Linked DNA regions of Homo sapiens. The protein of the gene in region 2 interacts with the protein of the main gene of each other region in a pairwise test. Each region holds a gene or a part of one and is shown on either strand. Other genes may lie near its edges.

Region 1 (7,000 bases), on a different chromosome or scaffold from region 2:
ATATGGGTGTAATAAACCTTTGTTGAATAAGTGAATAGATCCAGATGCAGCTAGTAGTGGTAGTGTCATCTGCCTGCCCTGGCTGCTCCTTATCCTGTGGGGAGCGCCCCCCGACCCCCAAACCACAGCCCTGCTGAGGCACAGTGGCTGGATTTTGGATGGGGTGGCTCTGCCAGCTGTGTGCCAGCCCTGCCCTTCAGCCAAAGCTGACTGGCCCAAGGAGTCACCTGCCCCAACGGCAGTGAACCTACAGTGACACTCGAGACCCAGATGGTTGGACGAAGGGAAGGGAGGGAAGTAGATTCTCTTTTTGGGAGTGTGAGTGAAGAAATCTGCCAGTCTGCAGTGGAGAGGAAGCCACGATACTTCACTGGGGCCATGAGGAGCCAGAGGTGAGCAGGCCAAAGGGAAGCAGGAACAGGAGATGCGAGGAAAGAACAGCATGTGGACAGTGGAACCACGTTCCTACAAGTTCAAGAATCAGTAACTGATGGAAATTCCCGTGGCTCACTCCTGTAATCCCAGCAATTTGGGAGGCTGAGGCAGGCAATTGCTTGAGCCCAGGAGTTCGAGGCCAGCCCGGGCAACATGGAGAAACTCTGTCTCTACAAAAACTACAAAAATTAGCTGGGCATGGTGGCATGTGCCTGCAGACCCAGCTACTTGGGAGGCTGAGGTGGGAGGATCACTTGAGCCCAGGGAGGTTGAGGCTGCAGTGAGCCAAGATCACGCCACTGCTCTCCAGCCTGGGCAACAGAGTAAGACCCTGTCTCAGAAAAATAAAAGAAAATTTGAGTTTGCAGAAACCACTTTCTGAAAGGCTGAAACTCCCTCTGCTTATGAGATAAAAGAACTGGCTGAAATTGGTTGGAACCAATAAGGCCAATTGCAGCTTGCACAGAACAAGTTTGCTGATGTCAAAGCCTGAATTGCCACTGCACGTTTCATACTCACTCCTCCCAAATCTGCACAGGGGACCCATGAGTTGGCATGAACAGATAACTGTGCATGTCCAAGGACTGTCCAGACTTCTCCTTTCCTTCCATCAATCACCTGCTAATCTTAGAATCCACCCCTTAAACCTCCTCTAATAAAATTACCGCCTTAAAGCTAGCACAGGGAGACAGGGTTGAATTCAACTCCTGTCTCCATATGAGTCGACTCACAATAGAAAGCTTGGCTTTTCTCAAAAATCCAGTGTGACTGCTTCTAGCACATCAGGCTAGAGCCCCCTTTGCTGCATAACAATGGTGGAGGGAAGCGAATGGGGCAGAGCCTAGACGGTGCTGGGGAGAGAGCAGGGCACCGGCCTCTCCCAGCACTGCATGGTCCCCAGGCTGTGTGGCTGCAGTCCACGTGTGCCCACGCGCTGCTCCTGCTCTTGAGTCAACCTGAGTGGCCCCTGTTCTATGCAATCAAAGGAGCCAGAGCATCGTTTCCACCCTCGGGCCCCTGGGCAAGTCATGATCACAGCCCCAGGCTGTCAGGGCCCCAGCAGGTGTCATGGGAGCTCAGGGGCAGAGGAGTATGGCTGTACTGGGGAGATACATGGTGGGGTTGCGGGTGTCTGAACTGAGACCTGAAATGTGGGAGGAGGGCAGCCCAGGTATAGCCAGCTGTACGCTCAAGAGATGGTCACAGAGAAGCCTGGCACATTCGGGGAAGGAGCTATGAAGCCAGCGTGGTGGAGTGTAGGGTGCTGATGAGAAGGGTGAGAGATAAGGCGGGAGACGTGGTGAGATGAGCAGGTTAAGCGCCTTCAATCTCTGGGCCCCAGGAGAGCAGAGGCTAGGAGGAAATGAACCCAGGGTGTTCTTGGGAAAGCTTCTCCCAAGGTGTACCAGAAGTTGAGGTAATGTACCTGCTGCCACATCTATCCGGTCATTCAACAGGTATTTACTGAGGGTATGCAGTAAACAAAGAGTGTTTACAGTACAGCTGGAGCAAAAAGGAACCAACAGAAAAAGACGTGTTATTTGAGGCCAGACAGTGAGAACTGCTAAAGGAACAAAGTCCCTGAAGAGGGACAGGGACTATGTCAGATGGGAGGTCTCAGCAGCAGACATCATGGTGCTCCGGCAGCAGGACAGCACCACGTCGGCCGGCTGCCACTCATGCCACAAAAGGAGGCATCAAGGATCATGTTAGCCCCAAAGCAGCTGACATTCAGGTGTCCACTTTCTCCAAAAAGGCCTCAGGAGAAGCAGCAGCCACTTGAGCAGCTACCTCCACCGGCCTGCAGGGACTCCCAGTCACATTGGAAACCTCCAAACCATGGAAGGGGTTTTCCACAACCACTCCCTTAATTTCATACTTTTGCCTCCCTGCTTCTGACAGAATGAAGATCTATAAACCAGCCCTCCAGTAAATCACCAAAAATGCAGCAGACCCACCTCTTCTTGGTGGGTCTACAAATGAGAGACAGGGTCTCACTCCAGGGTCGCCCAGGCTGGAGTGCAGTGGCATGATCTTGGCTCACTGCAGCCTCAACCTCCCTGGACTCAAATGATCCTCCCGCCTCAGCCTCCTGAGTAGCTGGGATCACAGGCATTTGCCCCCATGCCCGGCTAAAATTTATTTTTTGTAAAGGCGGGGTTTCACCATGTTGCCCAGGCTGCTCTTGAACTCCTGGGCTCAAGTGATCTGCCTACCTCAGCCTCCCAAAGTGCTGGGATTACAGGCATGAGCCAGGCTGTAAATATTGAGGTGGGCACAAGTATCTCCTCTGTCATAGCCTGCGCGTCAGTCCTCACCACCTGTGGTGAGGCTGGTGGTGGACATGGGCTTTTCTGAGCTGAAAGCGTAGCTGCTGTTCACTTGCTCTTCCCTCTGCTGGGAATGCCACTTCCCTACTCCTCTGCCCAAGTAATGCCAATTCATCCTTCACAAGGTGGCACAAACTGTCCCTTTGAGAAGGCTTTCTGAGCAGCCCCTCCTCTGCAGCACACGCCTCCCCTGGGCTCCCTCAGCCCAAGCATACTCGATTCTAGCACTTACACCCTGGGCTCTCTGCTGCCACACTGAGACCTCTGGGCCAACAGACCACTTTTTGTTTTTTTTAAAATCTCTTGGCACCATCAGTGCACATAACTATTAGTGAAATGAGTGTTCCCTCTGGTGGGGACAGAGTTCAGTTTATTCCGATAGGTGGCGCTCTACCCGTGCATTTCTTAGGAGGAATCTGAGAACCCCAGTCAATCATGCAACACTGTGAACTGGGCATTTTTGGGGGGCCTCCTCTCCCCTGCTCCAATGTGAATTACGCAAGTGCATCATCATTTGGGGTCAGATTACCTGCAATCTTTCCCAAGTGAAATTATCCACTAACTGAAAATCCATCACCAACATTAAGCCTTTATTATCTACTGTCATATCAGACACTGTACCAGGTGCTGAGGACATAAGTGATGGATGAAGTTGCTCTCAAAGAAGTCCCAGTCAGTCTGGCAGGCAGAGGGCACTTACCTGTAAGTGACTGCTCCATACTCCCCAGCCAAGGCCACTCGGCTCGCTGGGACCAGCTCCTGGCTCATTGTGTTCAAGATGGCTTCGCTGGAGGAACCTGCCTGGAACACCCACAAGGAACCCAGGGTTACACAGGCCGGAGCAGAATGGTAAGTTCCTTGTAAGCCCTGCCTGTAACCTGGAGCAGGGCAGCTACTGCCTAGAATTGGCTCTGACCTTCGAGATAAGATGACCTGTCTTAACTGGCAGGCTGAGACTAGTTACTCCTGGGAGGCAGACAGAGGTACCATCCATGCCAACTCAGAGGATTCTTCACACTCCTCAAACTCTTGCAGCCTAGATGCCAGGGCTGGAGGAGATGCCAAGGTGATCAGGATATGGGGTGCTGCTTCCTGCCATCGGTGCCTCTGGTCCCCACCAGTTCAAAATTGACCACTGGATCACTAACTCATTCTGCAGGCTCCCTTCAGCAGCCAGGCCAGAGCCTGACATGCTCCACCCTGGGTGAAGTTGTACTGAATCACAGAACAGCCTTCCTCCATCCCCCACGACAAACAGACAAAAACCAAAGAGTGGGGAAAGCACCTTATTGTCCTCATTGTATTGGGAAGGGCTCTCAGGACATATGAAACCTGTATCAAGAAGATCTGGTAAGAATCAACAATCTTGTAGCTGCTGTGAATGCAACAGCTGTCATGCCCCAACCAGGGCATGTTTTGATGCTAAGACTGGATGTTTCACAGGCAAAGGATTTGGCTACTTGTTAGCTATTAACCCAGCTTGGAGTGCAACAGTCTAATAACCTTCATTCCCCAAATCAGAACAAGAAACTGCATCCTCTAGGGCCCACCATGAACGGCTGTGGCCACTTCCCACTGCGGCCTTGAATGGATGGGCCCAGGGATGGGCAGGAGACAGAGCATCGGGTCTTAATACATTTTTAAAACCTACCTAGCAATGGCAAGGTAAATAAATTAAGTGGACAGAAATTGTTTTCGTGGGGGAAAAATACTCTTCAATTTCCCAAAGTCTTGAGTCCTTCCAAGAGTTGAGAGTAGGGAGTTGACATGCAAGCCTCTGAGCTGGAGGTGGGCTTGCAGAGTGAGCTTAAAGGAAAGAGATCCAGTTCCCCCTCTCCAGTGAGGCAGGTTGCAGGAAGGAGGGGATGGTGAACTAACCAATCAAGGTAGAAATCAGTGGTTTAGGCACTTGTTACTCAAAGTGTGGTTGACAGAGCAGTGGCATTGGTATCACGTGGGAGCTTATTGGGAAGGCACAATCTTAGGCCCCATCCCTGACCTGCTGAATCAGAATCTACCTTTGGGTTTTTTTTGTTTGTTTGTTTTGTTTTGAGACAGGGTCTTACTCTGTTACCCAGGCTGGAGTGCAGTGCCACAATCTTGGATCACTGCAGCCTCTGCCTCTTGCACTCAAGTGATCCTCCCACTTCAGCCACCAGCCACCCAAGTAGCTAAGACTACATACAGGTGCAAGCTGTCACACCCGGCTAATTTTTGTATTTTTCATAGAGATGGGGTTTCATCATGTTGCCCAGGCTGGTCTCAAACTCCTGAGCTCAAGTGATTGGCCTCCCAAAGTGCTGGGATTACAGGCATGGTCCACCAGGCCTGGCCAAAATCTACCTTTGAACCTGATCTCTGGGTGATCTGTGGGCAGAATACAATTTCAAACATTCTGGTTTAGACTTCTGTGTAACAGGGGGAGGTAACCTGACTATACAGGCACCTTTCCTGTGGATAATCTGTCTTTTCCTACCTACTTCCTGGAAAAAATCCTCACCAGGCCCACTAAGATGGGCATTTTGAGAACATCTCCTTTAAAGATGAAAGGCCTGGTGCTTACCGAGATGTTCCACATCATCTTGATGGCCAAGGGGAAGGCAGGGGCCCCCGGAGCTCGCTCCTGCCCTTCTCCTGGTGCACTGGTACCTGGGCCTCTCCCTGGAAGCAACCCGGTGCTCTTTGTCACCTCCAGGTTCTGGGGCAATGTAGGCATGGTGGCTTCATACACAGCAGCACTGCAGCCCTTACCAATGGACTGCCCTATCAGATACTCCTCCAGCCGAAAGCCCTGCAAGCGTCTCGTGTCCAACGGGTCAGGCCCCGGCTTGCTTTTCTGGGTAAAAATTGCCTGTGATGAGAAAAGAATGCACCGTGAGCCAGGGAGCCTAGGAAGGCCCAAGAAAAGGGAAACAGGGGAGGCAGAGAGAGGTGCAGCAAGGCGTGGTCCACGTCGACCAGATCAATAAACCAGAAAAACACAACCCAACCAGGTTCTACTGCTCAGCCTGGGTCCAGGCCATCTTCTTTCTCATTATTCAGAATGATTTTTCTCAAACTCTGTTGCTTCACTGGGATCACAATACTCAATGATCTGAGAGGTCAGAAACCCCACGTCCCGCAGCCAGTGCACCTCTCCTTGCTGCCTTCACTCTCCAGCAGAGTTCTGGAGGTGTCTGATTATGGAGACAGCTCGCTCTGCAAAGACCTTGGCTGACGGCTCCTGGGCAACTAGCAGGAGTGTGTGATCCACAGTGATCTCAGAGGGTCTCTCAGGCAAGTGGGTGACATCAGGCGCATCCCCAGAGCAGAGGGATTCAGTACTGTCTTTCTCTCTCTGCCTCTTAGGGCCCCGATGAGGCTACTCTGTCCAGAAAGGTAGCAAGAGTACAAGAGTTCAGACAGAAATAGATGGAGGTGCAGGTGCTGGGGGCAGTGCTGCACTGGGAAAGAGGCCATGTGACAAAAATCTGGTGGGTCTTCCCCTGCTTCAGGCAGCGGTGACGTCACTCTTCCAGTCACCCAGGCTCCGCTTTCCCTCTCAAATGGTCTGATCTGCTGAGCTCTTCCTTTCCAAGGTTAGTCACCCCTGGGTGCCAGGCACAGCTCTGCATATGCCCCTTGGCCATAGCCTACCAGGCACCATCTCTAGACTACCCCACTCTCAGTGCCGTGCCTTCCCTGCTCTGAGCCACATCAAAATATGTTGCTTTCATGTGTCACTCGGCTGTCCATCAGACTGCCCAGGAGGTTATCTGTGTTCTGGCTGCTGCCAGGCTGGTCTGCACGCTGCCTGCACTCATCCTTTGGACGCCTCCCTCTGAAAGCTGCTCACAGCATCCTTCCAGCCCCTGTTTCTATAGTATTGCTCTGTCTGGCTCATCCCTGCTCAGCCATCAAGCCCAACTCAAGCTCCTCCTTCCTCTGTGACCAGCCCTGATGACCCAGCCCATGGCAACTTTCCTTCTAGAGGGTTCCTAAAGCACCTGCTATCTGTAAGCAACTTAACCTTGCACTATAACTTTGAACCTTTTAAAAAAATGAAAGTCCAGGCCGGGCGTGGTGGCTCATGCCTGTAATCCCAGCACTTTGGGAGGCCGAGGGAGGCGGATCATGAAGTCAGGAGTTCAAGACCAGCCTGGCCAACATAGTGAAACCCCGTCTCTACTAAAAAATACAAAAAATTAGCCGGGTGTGGTGGTGTGCACATGTAATCCCAGCTACTCAGGAGGCTG
Region 2 (7,160 bases):
AGTGATTCTCCTGACTTCGCCTCCCACGTAGCTGGGACTACAGGCGCATGCCACCACACCCAGCTAGGTTTTGTATTTTTAATAGAGATGGGGTTTCACTATGCTGGCCAGGGTGGTCTCGAACTCCTGACCTCATGATCCACTAGCCTTGGCCTCCCAAAATGCTGGGATTACAGGCGTGAGCCACTGCGCCTGGCCTACCCTCAGAATATTTCTGTGAGGGGTGGGCTAGGATATCCGCTTGTGGACTTTATATTTGTCATTTTTGCCCATAACAGTTTATTCAGCAAATACATTTCCAATGCCCCCGAGTCGTCAAAGAAAATGTGACCCTGCTGTCTGGAGTCATAGGTGGCTGCTGAGCAGTGTACCAGGGCCATCTTGGTGGCCTGGACAGCACATTAGAGAAACAAGAGCTGCTTGCCCCAGGGTAAGTTTCACAGATGAGGAGCGATTTGGGCCGAGTGTCCAAGGCTGTTTTCACTGGAGGGGAGGGAGGAACGTTCCATGTCTGGAAAGCTGCAGGTGCAAGGGTAAGGAGATAGCTCTGAATAATTGGTTTGATGAAAGACTTGCGGGAGTGTGCAGGAGTGATGGTGAATGAGGCTAGCAGTTGTGTCTTTTCTGTCAGATATAAGCTTGTGCGTAGGAGCCTCATCCTGCATTCCTCAGGACAGTCACAGAGCCAGCCCTGGGCCTGGTGTGTGGGGAGCCCAGCCACGTGGCCCACCATGAGAGCTTTTCGTCAGAGCTCCAACTGTCAGAAGTGTCAGATGTGCCAGTAGAAGGATGAGGCCGCCTCCTAAAGGAGAGGGAAGACCTGGAAAGATCAACAGCAGACGCAGTCTCCCAAAGCAAACGTGATTCTGTGGTCAGGCAGGTACGGTGACGGGTTGGTCATTTTGCATGACGAGGTGACTGCCACAATCACCAAGGGTGCCGAGTCCAGTCTCCTGGTCATGCCAGATGCTCTTGTTTTCGTGAAATTGCCAGAACATGACTGAGGCAACCACGATAGGACTGGTTGGTGCAGGCGTTAAGATCTTGGGCCTTTTTGTTCTCTGTAAGCTGGAGCCTTTGCTGGAACTTCCTGTCTTGGAAATCAGAGTTGTGAGAGTAGGTCCCCTGCCAGCACCAGGAAGGTCGGGAGAGCTGGTTTCCTCACTTTGCTCAGGGCTCAAGTACTAGCTAGTTTGTTTCATCTTCCAAAAAGAGCCTCACCTGGACCCCGCTCCTGTAGGTGGTGCCTGCCTGCTGCGCCCTCCCCTTCAGTACTTCGTTTTGTTGACGGGTTTTGCCTCCTCCCTCTGCTCTCCCTTTGTTTGGAGCCTGTGCTGTTTGATTTCCGTGTCTTGTGTGCTGCACCCTTCAGGAGAATTCAGGTGAATTTCTGGTGCTCTCCGGCTGTTCTTTTCAGAGTGGAGGGGAGTAGTACTTGCTGGTCAGTTGCGACTCTGTCTGTGAAACAGCTCTTTGTGTTGCTGAGATGACGCTAGAGGTGTAGCGTCCATGACATGTTTGTCGTCTGATTAAGCTGTGGTGCTGGCACTTAGACGGCAGAGGAAGGTGTGGCCCAGCTGTCCAAGGCCACCAGGAGGACCTTCAGCTTAGTTAGGACCAAGGGAACTGAGTTATCTGAGTGCCTGAAAAAGAACACATCAGGCCGGGCGCGGTGGCTCTCGTCTGTAATCCCAGCACTTTGGGAGGCCGAGGTGGGTGGATCACTTGAGTTCAGGAATTTGAGACCAACCTGGCCAACATGGCGAAACCCCGTCTCTACTAAAAATACAAAGAAATTAGCCAGGGTGGTGGCAGGCGCCTGTAATCCCAGATACTTGGGAGGCTGAGGCACGAGAATTGCTTGAACCTGGGAGGTGGAGGTTGGAGGTTGCAGTGAGCCAAGATTGTGCCACTGCACTCCCTCCTGGGCGACAGTGCAAGACTCTGTCTTGGAAACAAACACATCAATCCGAATGTAAGAGATTAGCAAAGCGTTTATTGGTTACTGGGTGAGTAGTTGGCCTAAGCTAAGACAAAAGAGGAATCTCCAAGTATTTTGCTACCCCTTGGCAGGAAGAGAGGGAATGCAGCTTGCGGGGTGGGGATGGGGGTGTCAGGTTGATAAGAAAACTGTGGGAAAATAAACATTTACTCCTGCCCCCCATGTCAGTAAATACCATGTGACAAAGGTGAGTTCCATGAAAGAGGCTGTTACTGAGGCCTGTGATACTTGCTTGTCTCAAAATGCTGACATATCTTTTTTTTTTTTTTTTTTTTTTTTTTTTTTTTTTGAGACAGATTCTTTCTGTCGCCAGGCTGAAGTGCAGTGGCATGACCTCAGCTCACTGCAACTTCCGCCTCCTGAATTCAGGCAGTTCTCCTGCCTCAGCCTCCTGAGTAGCTGGGACTACAGGTGCATGCCACCATGGCCAGCCAATTTTTGTATTTTTAGTAGAGACGAGGTTTCACCGTGTTGGGCAAGATGGTCTCAATCTTTTGACCTTTTGATCTGCCTGCTTTGGCCTCCCAAAGTGCTGGGATTACAGACATGAGCTACCACGTCGGGCCTGACAAAGAATCTTGATAGCGATTGAAAATGTATCCATTCATACTCAAATGAAGTAAAAAGTGCTTTTGGGTTCAAAGCCAGAGAATGTTCATGGATGGCGTTTTTGGTGCCTCAAGTGTAGCCAGCTAGAACTTTTCTTACCACCGTCCTGCTTAGTCCTACTGAAGACCTGCCTTCTACTAGGAAGCTGCTCTTAGTCCACAAAGTGGCTTCCCTGTAGTTCCACAGCATTTAACAAAATAGATTTCAGGGAGTTTATTTGTGGTGTGGCTGGTTATTTCTGCTAAAACCACTAGGAATTACCATAAAAGCTGTAGCTTGGAGAAACAGTATCTACTTGCGGGAGTATTACTGCCACCTGTGTTTTTTTTGTTTTTGTTTTGGTTTTTGTTTTTTTTTTGTTTTTTTCAAGATGGAGTCTTGCTCTGTTTCCCAGGCTGGAGTGCAGTGGCACGAACTCGGCTCACTGCAATCTCCACCTCCCGGGTTCAAGCAGTTCTCCTGCCTCAGCCTCCCAAGTAGCTGGGGCTACAGGCATGCACTACCGTGCCCGGCTAATTTTTGTATTTTTAGTTGAGGTAGAGTTTCACCATGTTGGCCAGGCTGGTCTTGAACTTCTGACCTTGTGATCTGCCTGCCTCGGCCTCCCAAAGTGCTGGGATTACAGGTGTGCGCCACCGTTCCCAGCCCTGCCATTGGCTTTTTAACCAGGTGAATTCCTGTAGATTGGGTAGATTGAAAGGACATGTAGCTGAATCATTGGTTTTAAAAGGAATGGCTCAGTTACTTCATAGCCATATAATTAAGAAATGTGGCTAGAAGGTAAAAAATTGGCCAGGCCTGGTAGCTCATGCTTGTAATCCCAGCACTTTGGGGGCTGCGGCGGGAGGATCCTGTGAGTTTAGGAGTTTGAGACCAGCCTGGGCAACCTAGAGAGACCCCCATCTCTACCAAAAAACCCTTTTTTTTTTTTTTCCAATTAGCTGGGTGTGCCTGTGGTCCCAGCTACCCAAGAGGCTGAAGTGGGAGGCTCCCTTAAGCCTTGAGAAGTCGAGGCTGCAGTGAGCTGTGATCACGCCACTGCACTACAGTCTGGGTGACAGAGTGACAGTGTCTCAAAAAAAAAAATATATATATATATATATATATACACACACACATATAAAAGAAATTAATTTTGAGATAGCTAAATTAAATGCCATATTAAGAGCAGGAGGCTATTCAGCAATGCTGCTGAGAAGAAGACAGAAGGACGTGGGTCCTTCTAATGTAACTATGTGTGTCGGGTTAGTGATATGCACCTCGAAGGAGAAATTAAGACAGCACATTGCCATGTTAGTTCACACTTGCCAGTATTTCAGCATTTGTCAGGCAATGGAATGTTCAAGCGAATTTTCCACGAGGCTGACTTTAAAACATTTCATTTTAACCATTATGATGAGAAGTCTTTCTAGAACACTCCATCATTTGATGGCCCATGACTGAACCTCTCTTGGATGTTTTCAGGGTCATTATTACGGGTGTTAATGTTTGGTCTTCTGTTTTAATATGTAGGCTCCCGTAGGGCCATTGAAATGTGAAGAATCCTTCGTCTATGAAGTGTCCCCACATCAAAACTGCATTGTGAGTGTTTATATTTTTGGCCTCTCTTACTGTGGCCTTAACTTGCAGGTCTGTCTGGAGCCCTGTTCTCTCCTTTCCTAGTTTGCAGATGTGGCTGGGAAACTTGTTAGCATCAAATTGTTAGAATGAGATGGATTTCATATGGGGCCAGTAGTCTTCCATGAGCAAAGCTCAGGGTGAGGGCTTCAGGCCCATATTTTGACTATTCCGAGGTGCCCTTTCGCTTTTTGTTCTTTTTCTTTATGTTCAAGGAGTTATGTTTCCTGATGAATGAAGTATCAGTATATCATAGTAGAGAACGATTAGACCAGGTTCTGGAACACAGGAAACCTCAAGAAACAGTGAGTGTTGAGAATGCCAGAGCTAAGAACTCAGACATTTGTGAGGGAATACAGGTCTTTCTGTTCAGAATGTTCATGTACTTAAGAATCTTCTCGCCAGGCGCGGTGGCTCACGCCTGTAATCCCAGCACTTTGGCAGGCTGAGGCGGGTGGATCACCTGAGGTTAGGAGTTTGAGACCAGCCTGACCAACATGGAGAAACCCTGTCTCTACGAAAAATACAAAACTAGCCGGGCGTGGTGGCGCATGCCTGTAATCCCAGCTACTTAGGAGGCTGAGGCAGGAGAATCGCTTGAATCTGGGAGGTGGAGGTTGTGGTGTGCCGAGATGGCGCCACTGCACTCCAGCCTGGCAACAAGAGCGAAAACTCCGTCTCACACACACACACAAAAAAAAGGGAAACAAAGGTAAACTGGGAAGGAACCGTGTGTAATCTTCCGTACCTTGCATTTTCCACTTATATTCTGGGGTTTGTTTCCTGTCGCCACAGAGCTCTGGTATTCCATAGCGAGGATGTTTTGTAATTTATGTAACCCTCTCATGGCGGACATTTAGGTTGTTGCTGAGTTTCCCCAAGATAACAGACGGCATTGCCAACAGTTTCTCACACCTTCACCAGTGCTAGAATGACAGTATTTAAAACATCTGTCAATCTGGTAGTGAAAATGCTATCTCGTTTTAAAGTGCATTTCCTTAGTTATGAGTGTGGTAAAACATCTTTTACTAGGACGTAAAGCCATTGATGTTTCTTGTTTTTGTGAATGGCCATTTTTCTCTTGAACCAATGGCCTTTTTCTTTTTTTTTTTTTTTTTTTTGAGATGGAGTTTTGCACTTGGTGCCCAGGCTGGAGTGCAGTGGCGTGATCTTGGCTCACCGTAACCTCTGCGCTAGCCCTTTTAAATAACTTTTAAAAATTGAGACAGTGTCGGGCCAGGCACGGTGGCTCACGCCTGTAATCCCAGCACTGTGGGAGGCCGAGGCGGGCGGATCATGAGGTCAGGAGATCGAGACCATCCTGGCTAACACGGTGAAACCCCATCTCTACTAAAAATACAAAAAATTATCTGGGCATGGTGGCGGGCGCCTGTAGTCCCAGCTACTTGGGAAGCTGAGGCAGGAGAATGCCGTGAACCCAGGAAGCGGAGCTTGCAGTGAGCCGCGATCGCACCACTGCACTCCAGCCTCGGCAACAGAGCAAAACTCCATCTCAAAAAAAAAAAAAAAATTGAGACAGAGTCTGACTCTGTTGCCCAGGCTGGAGTGCAGTGGCGCCATCTCACCTTACTGTAACCTCCGCCTCCCGAGGTTAAGCAGTCCTCTCGCCTCAGCCTCACAAGTAGCCGGGATTACAGGCACGCGCCACCATGCCCGGCTCATTTATTTTTATTTATTTATTTATTTATTTTGAGATGGAGTCTCGCTCCGTCGCCCAGGCTGGAGTGCAGTGGTACAATCTTGGCTCACTGCAACCTCCGTCTCCCAGGTTGAAGCATTTCTCCTGCCTCAGCCTCCCTAGTAGCTGGGACTACAGGCACCCGTCACCACGCCCGGCTAATTTTTGTATTTTTAGTAGAGATGGAATTTCACCATGTTGATCAGGCTGGTCTTGAACTCCTGACCTCATGATCCATCCGCCTCAGCCTCCCAAAGTGTTGGCATTACAGGTGTGAGCCACTGCTCCTGGCTTTCTGGCTAATTTTTGTTTTTTTTTGTATTTTTAGTAGAGACAGGGTTTTGCCATGTTGGCCAGGCTAGTCTCAAACTCTTGACCTCGGGATCTGCCCGCCCCCACCTCCCAAAGTGCTGTGATTACAGGCGTGAGCCACGGCACTAAATTTTATTTTAGAGGCAGGGTCTTGCTTTGTCATCCGGGCTGGAGTGCAGTTGTGCGATCCTGGCTCGCTGCAGGCCTGACCTCCTGGACTCAAGTGATACTCCTGCCTCATCCTCCCAAGTGGCTGTGACCTCTTCCTCCCAAGGAGCATGTGCCACCATGCCTGGCTAATTAAAAAACATTTTTTTTAGAGATGGGGTCCCACTATATTGCCCCGGCTTGTCTTGAACTCCTGGTCTCAAGTGATCCTCCTACTTCTGCCTGCCAAAGTACTGGGATTACACGCAGGAGCCGTCGTGCCTGGCCCCCAGTTTTTTTCTTAATGTGTTTGTCTTTTTTTTTTTTTTTTTTGAGTTAGAGTCTCGCTCTGTCTGTTGCCCAGGCTGGAGTGCAGTGGCACGATCTTGGCTCACTGCAGCCTTCGCTTCCCGAGTGCAAGCAAGTCTCCTGCCTCAGCCTCTGGAGTAGCTGGGATTACAGATGCCCGCTGCGACTCCCAGCTAATTTTTGTATTTTTGGTAGAGACGGGGTTTCACCATGTTGGCCAGGCTGGTCTCGAACTCCTGACCTCAGGCGATCCACCCACCTCAGCCTCCCAAAGTGCTGGGATTACAGGCATGAGCCACCTCACCCGGGTGTTTGTCTTTTGACTTAAATTTTTATGTGGTCCTTATATTTATGGCCTTTTGGGTTATATATTTTGTTTAGAAACATTTCCTCTTAAGGCCGGGCGCGGTGGCTCACGCTTGTAATCCTAGCACTTTGGGAGGCTGAGGCAGGTGGATCACGAGT
Region 3 (7,119 bases), on a different chromosome or scaffold from region 2:
GTATAATCATCACTTGGGGTTCTTCTTTTCCCCTCACATAGATGATGATATAATTGGGATTCTTTATATTTGTCAATGTCACCTCAGAGCCAGCTGGAACCAGTGCAGCTCTGTCTTTGCAGAGGTAACTGCAGGTGCCCACAAGAGTTAAATGGGTTATCTTGTGGTTTTTATCTCCCAGGAGTGAAGACCACCCAGGAGTAAAGACCACCTTTATTCTTCTCTGTTTCCTGGCAGGGCTAATTTGACACAATGCTGCGTGTTGCTTGTTTTGGTGTCCTTGCTGGGCCCCTTTGCGCACCTCTGGCCCTCAGGTTCCCATGAGACATGCATCCAAACTGTTGAGTATGTGCGTGTAAAGGTTGACATCACTTTATTCCCTATTTTTTTGTGTGTGTGGAGACAGGGTCTTGCTATGTTGCCCAGGCTGGTCTCAAACTCCTGGGCTCAAGACATCCTGCTGCTTCAGCCTCCCAAAATGTTAGGATTACAGGCGTGAACCACTGCACTCAGCCCCTATTCCCTATTTTCTAATGGTTTTGAGACAGAGGTGCGTGCAATCAAGAGAGAGGATGCTCAGTAGCAGAAATCCCCAAGAAAGTGGGAGGGGCTGGGACACAAAACCCAGTGGAAGGGTGAGCCCTAAACAGGACATCTCTGAGACCCAAGGAAAGGATGGTGTGGGTGGGTAGAGACAATTTTGGAGGTGGCAAGAGAGAAGTATTCACTAATGGCTTCCGTTTGCTCTAAAAACAGTTCTTTTAATTGTGCAGCCCTCAGAACCAGAAGAAGTTCAGAGAGCTCCCTCTAAACACAGTTCTTAACCCACAATCCAAAAGACCCCTGAGGAGTCAGTGAATAGAATTCAAAGAGCCCATGGACTTGGATAGAGGGGAAATTGCATCATTATTTTCACTATTACTAACAGAAATATAGCATATCCTTCCAGGGGATGTGGGTAACAAACTGCAGTAATATTAGCACCTGTGACTTTGACACTAAGAGAGATCAGATTTTCATTATTACGGTTGTTGCATATCTCTCAAAATAACATCACTATTTCAAAAATCATGGTTGTCACTAGACCTGTTGATAGAGCTTGCTATTTAATGTGTTAATAAAGAAGCACATATATTACTACATTACAGGTGCGTTTCCTTTTATTTTGAAAATTGTACCCCAATATAATTGGTTTCTTTTGTAATCCTACTTATAGGACGCATGCATTATTCTGGGAAGGGGTTCCTAAGACTTCACCAGACTCCCATAGGTGTCCGTAGCATAGAAAAGGATGAGAAACACTGCTCTGAAGAGTAACCATAGCTAACACTTATATAGCTCTTGCTAAAGGCCAAGCACTGTTCCAAGTCCTTTTTAAATACATAGTTGTTAACTCATTTATTCCTAACAACCCTACGAATAGTCATTTGTTTATACTCATTTTACAGAAGAGGAAACTGAGGCACATCAGTTAAGTAACTTGTCCAGGGTCATTCGGCTAGTAAATAATAGAGCTGAGGCTGGGCGCGATGGCTCATGCCTGTAATCCCAACACTTTGGGAGGCTGAGGCAGGGCGGATCACCTGAGGTCAGGAGTTCAACACCAGACTGGCCAACATGGTAAAATCCCATCTCTACTAAAAATACAAAAATTAGCCAGGCGTGGTGGCCCATGCCTGTAATTTCAGCTACTCTGGAAGCTGAGGCAGGAGAATTGCTTGCACCCAGGAAGCGGAGGTTGCAGTGAGCCAAGATGCGCCACTGCACTCCAGCCTGGGCAGCGGGAGACTCCATCTCAAAAAAAAAAAAAAAAGCGGTAGAGGGGAAGAGATCCAAGACAACTCGAGAACATGGTCAGAGAGAGAAAAGATGGTGTGTAGATGCTGGGGAGGGCAGGAGGTTATTCCAGGGAATGACAAGTGCAATAAGGTGGCCTGGACAGGTGGTTAAAGTAGAGAGGAGGTGAAGGTTCCCGGAGTTGGGCAGGTGAAAGAATCATGAAACTGTGCCTGGAAATTCTTCCAAGATTAATTCATTAATTCATTTATTTCACACATTTGTTTTAAGTGTCTTGTACACGCCAAGCAGTGTTCTCGGCATTAGGTGAACCAGCTGGACAAGCCCCTGGTGCCATGGGGCTTACCTTCCAGCAGGGGGAGAACTACACAAACAAGGCCAGGTTAGCGGAGCATGCAGGCTCACAAGCCTGTAGGCACAATCCTGCAATGCCAAAACTTCTGAAAAGCATAAGGTTGTTTTTTCATACTTTGGAGCCCAAACTCAATAGATGACAAAACCTGACCTGAAGTAGTGTGAGGCTATTTATAGTCTTTATTCACACTTGGTGTGAATTTTCATACCTTTCACTTCAGAAATATTAATATTTCATTACGATGCTCCAGGCTTTTCTCAATAGTTATATAATATAGACTATACAAAAAGTTATGTTTGACTAGTTTTTTTAAAGAGTTATGTAATATAAATTACATGTCTTCCTTTCTCAAATTGAAAAAAACTCTGAATTCCACAGCACATCTGGCCCTAAGGTTGGAAAATGGATTACGGACATGCAAGTGCTATGAAGATAATTCAAATATGCAATGGGATAGTGTCTAGGTGGCTACAGTTTGAATATTTAGGGAGGACCCCTCTGGGAAGGTGATATTTAAGCTTAGTTCTGAATGAAAAAAAATAAAAGCAGTCATGCAAAGATCAGGGGAGAGCATTCCAAGCAGAGGGAGCAGCTAATGCAAAGATGAACACAAAGGAGGCCACTGTGGCTACAGCATATTGGGCCGGATGAAGAGTGCTATAAATTGATGGAAGCACTTCATGTAGATAGGAAAATTGTGAGACCGGTGTGCTAAATCCTTTGGTAAATACGGTGTAGTGATTATGAGTGTGGTGGCTGTCAACAACTAGAAGGCCTGGAGGGGAATCTTCCTGGGTGAGAAAGCAAGTGGGGGGAGATATTTCAGATAGAGAAAACATAAAGCAGTTCTGAGGCTGAAATGGTGGGCTAAGATTTATGGCCTGAAGACCTTGGTTTGAGGAAAAGTATAGAAGGAAGACAGATTAGATATCTGGGCTCAAGACTCTAATGACATAGCTTCTGGAAGCTGCCTGAAAGATGTTCTAGGATGACAAAGACCTGGGTCTTAAATAATAGTCTCTGGTTGAAGTCCAATCTGCAGTGTGTGATCTGGGCTTTTGGACTTAAATTAGACAAAGATAGAGGAGAGTAGCAAAGCCTGAACTGATGAAAGATGTTTTTGCCTCTTTAGGTTTGTGCTTCTCAGCAGCTGTCCTAGAATGTCTGTCTCCAAGCATCTCTCTTAGCGGCTTTCCACATTCATCTCTCTGTGATCCTACCTGGCATCTCTCTTCCTATCTCGGCCTCAACATATTTCTCTTTACATGGCTCTCTCTCTCTCTAACTCAGACTCCTCATCTTTGGATCTCCTTGTCTGAGTGTCCCAGAATCTGGTTCCGTCCATTCGTCTGTGTCTGTACTGTAATTCTCTTTCTCCACCTGGACTGTGCCCTCCTGGAAGGCATGAATCTTTTATTATTCCGCTGGGTATCCCAGGTGCCCCGCACACCGTCTAGCATATAGGAGTCTCAAATACATTCATACTTGAATTAAGACTTTTTCAGAGGAGAAAGGCATCCGTTCTCAATATCCACCCCTCTTCCCCCACGCGGAGCAGGCCACTTGCCAAAAGGCCAGCTAGAGAGTAGGGCGAGGGGTGTTGTGGTATTGTACTTCTGCTATTGGTCTCTTTCCCCAGTTGAAATAACTCTGGGGATACCTTAGCAGGCGGAATCCGCCCTCTGGCCAAAGGACTAGCGTACCAGGCCACGCCCCCACGTCTCATGCGGCAGCGGCAGACGCCCCGGCCCGTCGCATCCGCCCCTTCCGCCGCTTCGCCTCGGCCAATCAACGAGCGCCCGCGCCCCCATCCCCATCCCGTGGAGTGGCCGGCGACAAGATGGCAGCAGCGTGTCGGAGCGTGAAGGTAGAAGGTTCTTTGCCTCTGTTGCTTGCCTTCCTTTACGGGCCGGGACAGCGCGGCCGTGGAACTAGGAGAAAGAGATCGGTTTCGAGGGAAAGGGTCATGCTTATGTAGGCCTGGTATTGTGGCCGTTGGGCTCAAGAGGTGAAAGTCAGCACTCCGCGGCGCATCTGTCTGTCTGTCTGTCTGTCTATCTATCTATCTATCAATCATCTATCTATCTATCGTCACGGGACGGGCTGTCTGGGGATGAGATCCCTTCTGCCCCCGAGGTCCCAACGCTGAGGAGAAGCAGCACACCTAGTTTACCCGCAGGGGTGACCACGACCTCTCCCCTCCCCCCTTCTCCTCAGAAGCCTGGAGAACAGGCAGGCGACAGCGTGGGGATGGTCTGGGCAATGTAACAGCTGACCCTGACCATGTCCCTTTTGACAGGGCCTGGTGGCGGTAATAACCGGAGGAGCCTCGGGCCTGGGCCTGGCCACGGCGGAGCGACTTGTGGGGCAGGGAGCCTCTGCTGTGCTTCTGGACCTGCCCAACTCGGGTGGGGAGGCCCAAGCCAAGAAGTTAGGAAACAACTGCGTTTTCGCCCCAGCCGACGTAAGTGGGGTCACCTCTCCTCTCCCAGGGTGTGCATGAGGTCACCAACACCGGCCTGGGAACCTGTGGGGGTCCCTCCCATAAGGGTCTCCTCTATGGGGGCGGTAGACCCATCTCCTTGTCTCTTTTGGCCTGAGCCTTCAAGCACTGTGGGACCACCTGTGATAAGGATTCTCTAAAGCTGGGATTCACAACAATGAGGATGGGGATTGGACGTAACAATCTCCTGGAGGAGTTATGTATGGTTTGAAAATGCATTTTGTGCCTTGTAATTTTATATTTACAAAGTCAAAAAACTTGTTTTCATGAAACAAACTACAGAAAGTGAAACTTGATGAAATCATCTTAGCAGGTAAGGATACAAAAAAGCTAGTTTATCTTCCTATCAATAATTCTCACAAGAGGGTTATTTTTTATTTTTATTTTTGAGATGGAGTCTCGCTCTGTTGCCCAGGCTGGAGTGCAGTGGCACAATCTCAGCTCCTTGCAACCTCCATCTTCTGGGTTCAAGCGATTTTCCTGCCTCAACCTCCCAAGTAGCTGGGATTACAGGCACCTGCCACCACGCCCAGCTAATTTTTTTTTTTGTATTTTTAGAAGAGATGGGGTTTCACCATGTTGGCCGGGCTGGTCTTGAACTCCTGATCTCACGTGATCCGCCCGCCTCGGCCTCCCAAAGTGCTGGGATTACAGGTGTGAGCCACTGCACCCAGCCTCACAACAGGGTTGCATTAGTGCTCTGATCCACAGCAATTAAGAATCTTCAGGAGCATGTGAATTTATCAAGAAGGTATTGATTTGAAAAATGTTTTTGCAACACTGCTCTATATTACCTAATATTTTCACCTTTGACCTACTCTCTCAATTTTTTTTTTTGGGACAGAGTCTCACTGTTGCCCAGGCTGCAGTGCAATGGCACGATCTCAGCTCACTGCAACCTCTGCCTCCCGGGTTCAAGCGATTCTTCTGCCTCAGCCTTCCAAGTAGCTGGGATTACAGGCATGTGTCACTATGCCGGCTAATTTTGTATTTTTAGTAGAGACGGGTTTTCACCACGTTGGCCAGGCTGGTCTCAAACTCCTGATCTTAAGTGATCCACCAGCCTCGGCCTCCCAAAGTGCTGAGATTACAGGCATGAGCCACCGCACCCAGCCTATCTCTCAAGTTTTACAACCTTTCTCTTGGCCTCTCCCTTCTCACAAATCTCTTCTCACCCAAGGACTGGGCATGCCCTGCCCTGCCCTCCCTCAGGTTTAGTGGGAAGAGTGGGTGCTGGGAGATGAATACCTTCTCCACTTCTCTCTTTGAAGGTGACCTCTGAGAAGGATGTGCAAACAGCTCTGGCTCTAGCAAAAGGAAAGTTTGGCCGTGTGGATGTAGCTGTCAACTGTGCAGGCATCGCGGTGGCTAGCAAGACGTACAACTTAAAGAAGGGCCAGACCCATACCTTGGAAGACTTCCAGCGAGTTCTTGATGTAAGGCCTTGGAAGTTCTCCAGGGATAGTGGTAGTAAGAAGTATCTGGCTGTGGAGGACCCCAAAGTTTTTAGGGGACAAAGGCTTCTTCTGCCTCAGGTCCTATAGCATGTCTCCATCTGTCCTACAGGTGAATCTCATGGGCACCTTCAATGTGATCCGCCTGGTGGCTGGTGAGATGGGCCAGAATGAACCAGACCAGGGAGGCCAACGTGGGGTCATCATCAACACTGCCAGTGTGGCTGCCTTCGAGGGTCAGGTGTGTGGGCAGGGGTAAGACTTATGCCTCCTAAGTGACTTGTTGGGGCCCTCCCACCTATGACTTCTACTCTTTCTCCAGGTTGGACAAGCTGCATACTCTGCTTCCAAGGGGGGAATAGTGGGCATGACACTGCCCATTGCTCGGGATCTGGCTCCCATAGGTATCCGGGTGATGACCATTGCCCCAGGTAGACATATCCCCTCTCTCCATCATACCTGGGATTGGGTGGGATCCATGGACAGTTGAGAGGGGAAGGTATCCACCACCTAAGCAGCAGCAGCCTTTTATCTTTGGGCCCCAGAGAAGCACCAAGAAGTAGGGCTAAAGTAAGGAAGAACCAGGTAATCATGAAAGCAAGGGTGAGTCTCTGAATTTGGCTATATTGTTTAGGTCTGTTTGGCACCCCACTGCTGACCAGCCTCCCAGAGAAAGTGTGCAACTTCTTGGCCAGCCAAGTGCCCTTCCCTAGCCGACTGGGTGACCCTGCTGAGTATGCTCACCTCGTACAGGCCATCATCGAGAACCCATTCCTCAATGGAGAGGTCATCCGGCTGGATGGGGCCATTCGTATGCAGCCTTGAAGGGAGAAGGCAGAGAAAACACACGCTCCTCTGCCCTTCCTTTCCCTGGGGTACTACTCTCCAGCTTGGGAGGAAGCCCAGTAGCCATTTTGTAACTGCCTACCAGTCGCCCTCTGTGCCTAATAAAGTCTCTTTTTCTCACAGAGTGTAGGCAGTGTTGTGTGCTAGGGGGCCTGGCATGGGGA

Evidence for each region.
Region 1: the proteins of TRAP1 (region 2) and PINK1 interact in binary tests that used the Homo sapiens proteins (3 or more experiments, as listed by UniProt).
Region 3: the proteins of TRAP1 (region 2) and HSD17B10 interact in binary tests that used the Homo sapiens proteins (3 or more experiments, as listed by UniProt).

Annotation. Positions count from the first base shown.
Region 1 is NC_000001.11:20,636,458-20,643,457, reverse strand, and holds part of PINK1 (serine/threonine-protein kinase PINK1, mitochondrial precursor), read right to left. Parts: intron 5,617-7,000; coding exon 5,329-5,616; intron 3,567-5,328; coding exon 3,466-3,566; intron 802-3,465; exon of another isoform or gene 340-801; intron 1-339. UniProt on the Homo sapiens protein: Serine/threonine-protein kinase which acts as a sensor of mitochondrial damage and protects against mitochondrial dysfunction during cellular stress.
Region 2 is NC_000016.10:3,707,417-3,714,576, reverse strand, and holds part of TRAP1 (heat shock protein 75 kDa, mitochondrial isoform 1 precursor), read left to right. Parts: intron 1-4,174; exon of another isoform or gene 4,175-4,192; intron 4,193-7,160.
Region 3 is NC_000023.11:53,431,219-53,438,337, reverse strand, and holds HSD17B10 (3-hydroxyacyl-CoA dehydrogenase type-2), read left to right. Parts: upstream 1-3,967; 5' UTR 3,968-3,992; coding exon 3,993-4,019; intron 4,020-4,451; coding exon 4,452-4,616; intron 4,617-5,926; coding exon 5,927-6,091; intron 6,092-6,221; coding exon 6,222-6,350; intron 6,351-6,431; coding exon 6,432-6,540; intron 6,541-6,743; coding exon 6,744-6,934; 3' UTR 6,935-7,077; downstream 7,078-7,119. UniProt on the Homo sapiens protein: Mitochondrial dehydrogenase involved in pathways of fatty acid, branched-chain amino acid and steroid metabolism. Acts as (S)-3-hydroxyacyl-CoA dehydrogenase in mitochondrial fatty acid beta-oxidation, a major degradation pathway of fatty acids.